Homo sapiens: one gene and its partner. The protein of the gene in region 1 purifies or fractionates together with the protein of each later gene. This does not show direct contact. Each region holds a gene or a part of one and is shown in the gene's direction. Other genes may lie near its edges.

Region 1 (4,719 bases):
AGTTTTCTAAATTCTCTATTAATTTGAGCATTTAAACGTTGCTTATAAAACATTCAGCTAAGTACTCGCCTTGGCAGCACATACACTAAAGTTGCAGTGATACAGAGAAGATTAGCATGGCCCCTGGGCAAGGATGACATGCAAATTTGTGAAGTGTTCCATATCTTTAAAAAAAAAAAAAACACTCAGCTAAGATTGAGTAGTGATGAAGTATACCACACTGTCTTTCATTCTTACAGAGTTTGATAGGAGTTGGTTAAGTGTTTTGAGCATCAGCTCGGTGTTGACTTTTCCAGTGGTGGGTCTGAGTTTGGAGAATACTCTTTACAGGCATGATAGCTGAGGGCACATTTACCAGGAAATCGAAAAGGAACCATGACAACTTGTTTAAAGGTTTAATGCTCTTTAGAAGATAAAGATCGTTCTAGATCCTCTACTAAAGCCATTTGTACTAACTCCTAAAACATGAGTATCCCCTGAGTTTTTAAAGTGTCTACTTGTAAACCAGTAATGTCTTCATATTTCATGTTTCAATTGAACTAATTATTGAATACTTAATATGTTTATGGCATATGCTAGACACTGAGTCATTATGAGATGTTTCTAAAGAGTTAAGGGATAGAACACAAGTCATTCTGTAGACTACTAGCAGTAGTTGAATAAGAATCACATTACTTAAAGGGTTTTTTGTTTTTTTTTTTTAAGAAGCCATTTGGCCTTATGGATCTAGGGCTTGACCTGTAGTACACTTGCTTCATCCATTGGCAAGAAAAATTTCAGCGGTGTTCACTTACACCTCTAGTTCTTATTGGTAATTTTACCTTCTGAGACATGTTTCTACTCAGTGCTTCACTCATATGCCAGTCACATAGGGAAATGTCAGCCCTGGATTTCTGCTTCTGAAATTTTGGCGGGTTTCCACCGAGTGCTAAAGTGCTTAGGTTAGGTGCTCTGTTGTTCTCAAAGACCCAGTACTGAATTTTCACTGTGGCCTCCCAGTTTGTCTCCTCCCAGGGGGATCTGCTGCAGGAGGTATGTGCCAAGTGTCCCATCACCCAAAAAGAGCTGCTGTGAACTGAGTGTATCCATGTATAGTCCCTGTACCTCACCCTTTTATGCATTCACTGTGTAATTATTAAAACTAGCAGGCAGGTGCTGTTATTGGCCCGATTTTATACGAGAAGGAGACTGAGACACTGGGAGGCTAAGTAACTGGCCAGGACACATGGCTAATTAGTTATCTGGGCCAGGATCCAGCCAGATCTATCTGACTTCAGAGGCCAGAGCCCCCACAATTCACCACTATACATCCAAGCCGAACCAAATCTAGAAGGCATGTGTTCAGTAAGGGTTAAGTTTAATGTTGCTGCTGAATAGAAAGGGGAAGAGGGGAAGCTTTATGAGATGCAGTAAAGAGGCTGCTTTATACCTATAGTCTTTGCTTCTTTTCTATAACTTCATCATAAATAGCTTAATTAGAAGTTTGTTTTAGAAAATTCAGACTAAACATCTTCTTACACTCTAACCCTACTTTGACTCATTAACCTCTATTTACTGTAAGATGAGAGAGAGTGTGTGTGCTGTTCTGGTTGTCTGCCACCAAAGAGTCACAGTGAAACTTTTTGGTAATGGTTAATATTTGATTTTTCATTCCTGATAGCAATATGTCAGAATATATGGCAAGAGGTGTGAATAATTTGAAGTATTTATTGTTTTTATCTCTGTGTTTTATTTCAGGGTTGATTGTGAAAGAAATTGGGTCTTCCACCTCGAGCTCTTCAGAAACAGTTGTTAAGCTTCGTGGCCAGAGTACTGATTCTCTTCCACAGGTATTAAAGGAATTGAAAAATATCAGTTAGGAAACTGAAGTTATAGAAAATTTTAAGTAGTAACTTACATTTATACAAATGAGCAAAAATTAAAAACCCTAAGGAAATGATCCTTCCTAGATACGTACATTCTAGCTTTATTCTGAATTTATTTCCATCTTATTTGCTAGTTCTGCTTATCTTTGAGTTGATTTTTACTTAGATAAGTTATAGATTTTGCTTCACATTTTATATGGTTGGGAAGCCTCTGTTCTTCAGGCTTCAGGCGAACCACGTGTGCACATGCATGTGTCTGTGTGTGTTGCTTGTCCTCAACCTGGGAGAATAATATTTTTTGTCAGTGTGTTCTGGCAGAAATGTTTCCACACTCTGGTTATTCCATTCAGATTGAATTTTCAAAGTATGCTGAGCCTAGAGCATTTGACAACCTGTGATCATTGGTTAAACTATTAAATGTCCAGCAATATAGATAAAATACTCTGAAACTCATGGTTTCAGCATTTGGATGTAATGTATGACTAATGGCCCTAATTCCTGAGCACTTCCTCCCTCCTCCTGCCTTTCTTTCTTGGGCTCTCTTTGTGTCTTGTTTTTTTCCCTTCTGTGTGTGTTTCTCTTTTTTCATTTGCATTCTGGCTCTCCTTGTCCCTACTTTTCTCTTCCTCTTTCCTCCCTTTTTTCTCATTTGTCTTTTCTTTCTCTTACTTGCGTTGAAGTAACCATAATGTGAAAATGATGTTTATGAAATATTTTCCTGAAAACTGCAATGAGTAATCTACTCTTAAGAGATGTTTCTGGGGCACAGCTGATAGTCAGATTCCACACCTACACTATGGGGAGAACTTTGTGTGCCTTCCTTGAGAGTTTGTGGGGATGACCAAATGATTCTATGTGTGAAATCCTGTTGGAGTCTGGGAAGACAGCATCAGCACAAGGGATCACTCGGATGTGACACTTCCTAGTAAAACATGCTTCTGGAACTTTTGCCTCTAGCAAAAATTGTATCTTATTCTAACAGGGTTGTCCTTTGTGGTGGGAAGCAGCAAAATTTAAAGATATAATACCTGGTTTCCTTAAATAACCCATTGCATATCTTCCATTCATATAATTATCAGAATCATTTTTAACCTATTTCTAATACCACCTCTTGGGATAATAAAAAAAAGTCTGCCCCCTGCTGTGTACAGCATTTGGCGGAACCCCCCCACCCCCGACTCGTGTTCGGGAACTTAGTCCTGGTGCCTGCCTCCCAGCCTCTTCAACACCAAGAACACCCTATATCCTACCCAGCACCAAGAACACTTTATATTCAACCCAAGAATTCTGGCCTTTTAAAGAGAAAAACTGTGTTTCTTGGTAATAATTGGTTTATTTTCCTATTTCTTAATAAAATAATAACAGACCTTGGCCTAAAAGGTCTGAATTGCCATATCCTACTGAAAAAAAAAAAGGAAGCCATGTCTTTACCTATATGACCTTATTTCAAGATAATTACTTGATTTCTGAAATGCTAGGGATAGTTGGATTCCTGTTGTATTTGCACCTCTGTGCTTTGGATTATTTGTAAAATGAGGAGAATGATAGTGCCTGCTTCCTAGGACTGTTAGGAAGATTAAATGAGTTAATGCATGCCGAGTATTTAGGTCAGGGCCTGGCACATAGTAATTGCTCGGTAAATGTTAGCTGCTATTATTACTGATGGAGGTGGTGTTGATGATATATTTCCCCATACAGCCCAGAAACCACAGATTGGAAACCACTTTCTAACATGTAAGGATTACTTAACCTTTTGTGGTTCTGTAGCATCTCTCTTTACAAGGCAAATATTCTAACCTTTCACTTTAAAGTTGTTTCATCCTTCCCTTATCTTGCAGACTATATGTCGGAAACCAAAGACCTCCACTGATCGACACAGCTTGAGCCTCGATGACATCAGACTTTACCAGAAAGACTTCCTGCGCATTGCAGGTCTGTGTCAGGACACTGCTCAGAGTTACACCTTTGGATGTGGCCATGAACTGGATGAGGAAGGCCTCTATTGCAACAGTTGCTTGGCCCAGCAGTGCATCAACATCCAAGATGCTTTTCCAGTCAAAAGAACCAGCAAATACTTTTCTCTGGATCTCACTCATGATGAAGTTCCAGAGTTTGTTGTGTAAAGTCCGTCTGTGTGCAGCTGTACAGGCAGCTTACTGTTTGCTAGAGGATGCGAAAGTCATAAGTTCTTTACATATTACTTGTGCCATATCTTCTTCACCCTAAACATAGCTCTTTCTTTATAATATTTGTGATGATGGAAACAAAAGCCTTGGAACAATTGCACTTTAAGTATTACACAGAAGTAAAAGAACTACAGAAAATGTACAGCAAGACAAGTGCCCGGAAGTTCACTGATCCTTCAGAAGGAAATGCGCTTTACTGATTGCAAAGCCTTCAGAATATTGGAGTGTGGTGTGTTTGCTCATCTGATGCTTTTTAGTTCAGTTACATGTAACATCACATTTTTTTATCACGTGAAAGATGTTAGATTTGTTTGCTTATAAATTTTTTACCACTCCCACATAAAATGCTCATAGTTTGGGAGAGGAAAGAGGGAAGATTCTCTCTTCTTTTAACAGAGAGATGATTGCTCTGTATACCCATTGCTTCCTCCCTGAGGCTGTCCCAAAGTGAACACTGATGGAGTGGTCAAAATCATAAGGTTGTAGCAAGCCAAAGATACGTATGTGACAGAAGCACATAAGCAATAAGCAGAAAACCAGAAGTGCATGCTGTGATGCCTGTGACTCCTTCATCCCGCTCAGTGCCATGTCCTCTTTTGTGATCTTCCAGAAAGCTCCAGGATTCATTTGAGTTCCACATCCAAGTAACAGATGAATTATATTCATGT
Region 2 (5,060 bases), about 16 Mb from region 1:
CTGACTTAAAAGTGGGAATAGGGAGAAAATCTCTAATACGGAAAATTATTATTGAGCTGACTCAGTGTATTTTGTATACCCTTGGTACATTTTTAATCCAGAATTATCTTCCCATCCTCAGAGTTTCTTCAGCTGTCAAAAGGTGTATGATCAAGACTACAAATTTCATTTAAAATTAATGTAGACTTAATAAACTTTAAAAGGGAAAATACCCTCTTTTAAAAACAACTTTTAGTTACCCACAGTCTTAAATCCTGGGTCTTAAAGCCTTAAAGCCTTGTCCATTGTAAGATTTTAGTTGAGTTCTTGAAGAAGATAATATTTGCTGTGCCGTCCTGTTTATACATATGGAACTCTACAATTAGAAATATAATTTTCTAAGTACCAAAACCTGAGGACAGACTGGTTTTGGTACTGTCATTGCTTTGATCCACTTGCTGTGGTAAAATTAATTAATCCCAAAATTATCATCTCTTGGGTTTCATAGGAAAATTACTGATAAAATGATTTAAAATAGCCATAAAAGGTATAGAATTACTGGGTTCCTGTATTATGAATTACCTTTTTTTTTTTGAGAAAGTCTCATTCCATCATCCAGGCTGGAATGCAGTGGCGCCATCTCAGCTCACTGCAACCTCTACCTCCTGGGTTCAAGCCATTCTCATGCCTCAGCCTCTTGAGTAGCTGGAATTACAGGCACACGCCACCACGCCTGGCTAATTTTTGTATTTTTAGTAGAGACAGTATTTTGCCATGTTGGCCAGGCTGGTCTCGAACTCCTGACCTCAAGTGATCTGCCTGCTTTGGCTTCCCAAAGTGCTGGGATTACTGGTGTGAGCCATTGTATCTGGCCTGTTTTAAGATTTTCTTAATCAGTCTTTGAAGCACCATAAATAGTAGGTGCCATTCTAAAGATAAGGAAACAGGCTAAAAAAATTTATAACCAAGGGGAGTTTATCCTAGGAAGACAAAGATTTCTCGACTGTGGGAAATTTAATGTAATCCATTATATTATGGTGATTGTTCCATTACACTCATATAAATTCATCTTGTTAGACTGTCAGTCTTTTTTTTTAATTATATAAAAAAATTTATAAAATAGAGACAGGGTCTCACTGTGTTGCCCAGGCTGGTCTCAAACTCCTGGGCTTAAGCAATCCGCTTGCCTCAGCCTCTCAAAGTGCTGGGATTACAGGTGTGAGCCACTGCACCCAGCCTGACTATAACTCTTTAAGTTGTCATCTCTGATTTTAAATAGTCACATAAATGATTTAAAAACTATAAAATAGCAAGGTAACTGTTAGGACAGTTTTTCTTTTCTTATGTAATTATTATTAATGAATTTTATGGTATGTTGGGTGAAACGTTCAAGATGGAAGTATTTTGTCTATAGGCGTAAGTACCAAAATATTATTTAGTGTTTTTTTAATAAGAAATACTGTTGTTTTATCCATAATAACAAGATTGAAAACTCTAATAATTCTTTTTAGTGATTTTATTTCTTACAAGTATTTTTATTATTTTAATTTGTACTTAAAAAATATGACCCTGCATACAGGTGCTACTGATACTTCCTATAATCTAGGAAGAATAATCTTTATTTTTGTTTCTTAGGTACAAACTGTTTTGAAGCCAGTTCATCATAAGGAAGGACAAGAACTAACTGCTTTGCTGAATACTCCACATATTCAGGTAGAAAATGGACAGAATACTATATATGTGGTTTTTCCAGCATTCTTCTATTTTTTTAAATCAAAGACTCCAGTACTGGAAGAGATGTCAAACATTCTCTAGCCTATTTTGATGTTTACAACCCCATCTATAACATAGTAGTTATTGTTGGATTATATATTTTCAGATTTAAAATGAACCAAATTATTTTTGAAACAACTTTTTCTTTAAAAATTAGGCAAAAATTCTTCCCCCCTTTGGTTGTATTTTCTGTAAGTTTAATTATCTAGGGTGTGTAGACCTTTACATTGATGTTATCTTCCGAAGTTTAGTAAGCATTTTAGACTTTCATAACCCATTCCAGAGTATGCCCTTAGTATACTTAACACATCTTTATTATTAGCTCTAATTAATTATAACACTTTTAAAGATTTAATGGTCAGAATACTATGTACATAGGTTAAAAATCACTCTGCAGAAATAAATCATGCTGTTACTTAAAATGCCATGGATTTCTTTGAAACAGGCACTTTTACTGGCCCACGATAAGGTTGCTGAGCAGGAAATGCAGCTAGAGCCCATTACAGATGAGAGAGTTTATGAAAGTATTGGCCAGTATGGAGGAGAAACTGTAAAAATAGTTCGTATAGAAAAGGCTCGTGATATTCCGTTGGTAAGTGTCCCACATACTGTTTTTAAACAAGTGCATTTTTCTGCTGTTGTGTGCTTCAAAAGTCTGGTTAATTTCAGAATTCTAATGAATAGAGTATTTCTGAAGCAGAAAGTGTGGGGGAAATGGTCAACTTTTAAATCTAATTACAATTACTCTAGTTGTGTAAATAAATTTTTTCTTAAGATAACTGAAGGTTAGTATTGTTGAATGGAAAAAATAGAATTTAAAAATAAATGCTTAACAAAAATTGTATTATTTTTATTTTTAAATTATACATATATATATTTTTAGGGTGCTACAGTTCGTAATGAAATGGACTCTGTCATCATTAGCCGGATAGTAAAAGGGGGTGCTGCAGAGAAAAGTGGTCTGTTGCATGAAGGAGATGAAGTTCTAGAGATTAATGGCATTGAAATTCGGGGGAAAGATGTCAATGAGGTTTTTGACTTGTTGGTAAGTTGACGCAGCTAGAAGAATAATTGATAGCTTTTAGAAAGCTCTTATTAGACTTTAGAATAAAATATTTTTAAAATAACTGTTAAGAGCACTAGATGATTTCTAGCCTGATTTTTCCATGATGTAACTGTTCCACAGTATTTGTTAGCAGTTTTATTTTTGGGTGGTACCACTGATATTTTTTTACTTTCTGATGTATCACTATCACATATATTTTATTTTTCTGGAATCAGTAATATAACTCATTAATTCACTCAGTACATATTTATTGAGTGCCTAATATGCACTAGCCACTTGGGAAACAGTAACAAAACAAAGTCTGTGTCCTGATGATTTTTTGTGTTCTTTTATTTTATTATCTGTAATTGATTGTTGTTTTCCTAATAATATTAGATAATAACAGTGCTATAGATCTGCAGTGTCCGGCATAATAATCACTAGCTGCATATAGCTATTTCTGTTTAAATTAAGTAAAATTTAAAATTCAGTTCCTTATTCGCACTAGCTGCATTTCAAGTGCTGAGAAGCAGTATGTAGCTAATGGCTACCATTATTAAGATACAGAAATAGCACATTTCCATCATTGGAGAAAGTTCTATTGGATAGTGCTAGTATAATCAGAAAATCATTTCTAGACATCTTTTGAGTGCAATTTATGATCACTTTGTACACACGCACAGACTAGATTTATGGTCCTAGTTATTCAGCATCTGTTATTACAGTGGAATCTGTACTATCTACTGATTCTGTTGTAAAATCTAGAGACATCTTCACACACTTATTTTCATCCAGCCCCATTCATTGCTTTGGTAGAGCAAAGTGCTGCTGGTCATTTAAGTCTGTGGAGGGGTTCTGAAATAGTCCAGTTTAGGGAATATAGATCATAAAATCATGGAATGATTTTCATAAATGCAAATTTAAAAAATAACCTGATCTTTCTATTACAGTCTGATATGCATGGTACTTTGACTTTTGTCCTGATTCCCAGTCAACAGATCAAGCCGCCTCCTGCCAAGGAAACAGTAGTAAGTGATTTTTAAATGTTCATTATTTATGTGTTTGTGGATGCTGTTTACTTCTGTTACTGTTTACTGTTACAGAAATGTCACTGTTTCCTGTACTCAAATAAATTCAATCATTTTTATTTAAATAAATATGAAATATCAATGTTTTAAATTAGTAAACTCTGCACCTTTTTTTTTGGAAGGTGGAAGATGGAATCTCCATCTGTTGCCCAGGGTAGAGTGCAGTGGTGTGATCTTGGCTCACTGCAACCTATGCCTTCCAGGTTCAAATGATTCTCCCACCTCAGCCTCTTGAGTAGCTGGGATTCCAGGCGCATGCCACCACACCCAGCTGATTTTTGTATTTTTGGTAGAGACAGGGTTTTGCCATGTTGGCCAGGCTGATCTTGAACGCCTGGCTTCATGTGATCTGCCTGCCTCGGCCTCCCAAAGTGCTGGGATTACAGGTGTGAGCCTTCACATCCAGCCAACTCTGCACCTTTTTAAAATAAAAAGTAGAAAATAATTTCAGTTTCAGAATTTTTTTTATAGTTATAGGTGGGTTTACTTAACTTAGTATGGAGTAGGGCAAGTGCTTTTTAAAAAGTATGTGTAACCCTTCTTTTAGAGTATATTGTTCTGTTAGACATTTACTCAGCTAGATCTGTTAAAAGTCAGTCTCCATTACCATACAGTCAAGCAATTGCATTCCAAAGTATATATCCAAAAGGACTGAAAACATATATTCACATAAGAATGTCTACATGAATGTTCATAGCAGCAGCATTCACAGTAGCTAGAAAGTAGTAACAACCCAAATGTCTGTCAGGTGATGAATCAAAGACAAAATATGTATGTATGATGGGATATTATTTGATAATTTTAAAAGCCTACAGTACTGATATATGCTACAACATGGATGAACCTTGAAGAAATTATGCTGAGCGAAGGAAGCCAGTCACAAAAGGCCATATATTGGTTCATTTATATAAAATGTCCAGAATAGGTAAATCCATAGGAGAGAAAGCAGATTAGTAATTCCTTAGATGTGGAGATGAGGATTTATGAGGGAATGGTGATTACTAATCAGTACCAAGTTTCTTTTTGAGGGCATAAGTATGTTTTAAAATTGTTTGTGGTGATAATTGTACAAATCTGTGAATAAACTAAAACCATCCAATTGTGTACATGAGTGAATTGTATATGAATTATATATCAATAAAGCTATTTAAAAATGAAACTTTAAAGTGTTGAAT

What was found.
Region 2: the proteins of FRMD6 (region 1) and PALS1 purify together in Homo sapiens (co-immunoprecipitation; one large-scale study listed by IntAct). This does not show direct contact.

The regions. Positions count from the first base shown.
Region 1 is NC_000014.9:51,724,042-51,728,760, forward strand, and holds part of FRMD6 (FERM domain-containing protein 6), read left to right. Parts: intron 1-1,737; coding exon 1,738-1,829; intron 1,830-3,563; coding exon of another isoform or gene 3,564-3,596; exon of another isoform or gene 3,597-3,703; coding exon 3,704-3,988; 3' UTR 3,989-4,719.
Region 2 is NC_000014.9:67,299,775-67,304,834, forward strand, and holds part of PALS1 (protein PALS1), read left to right. Parts: intron 1-1,614; coding exon 1,615-1,692; intron 1,693-2,197; coding exon 2,198-2,344; intron 2,345-2,635; coding exon 2,636-2,797; intron 2,798-3,747; coding exon 3,748-3,825; intron 3,826-5,060. UniProt on the Homo sapiens protein: Plays a role in tight junction biogenesis and in the establishment of cell polarity in epithelial cells.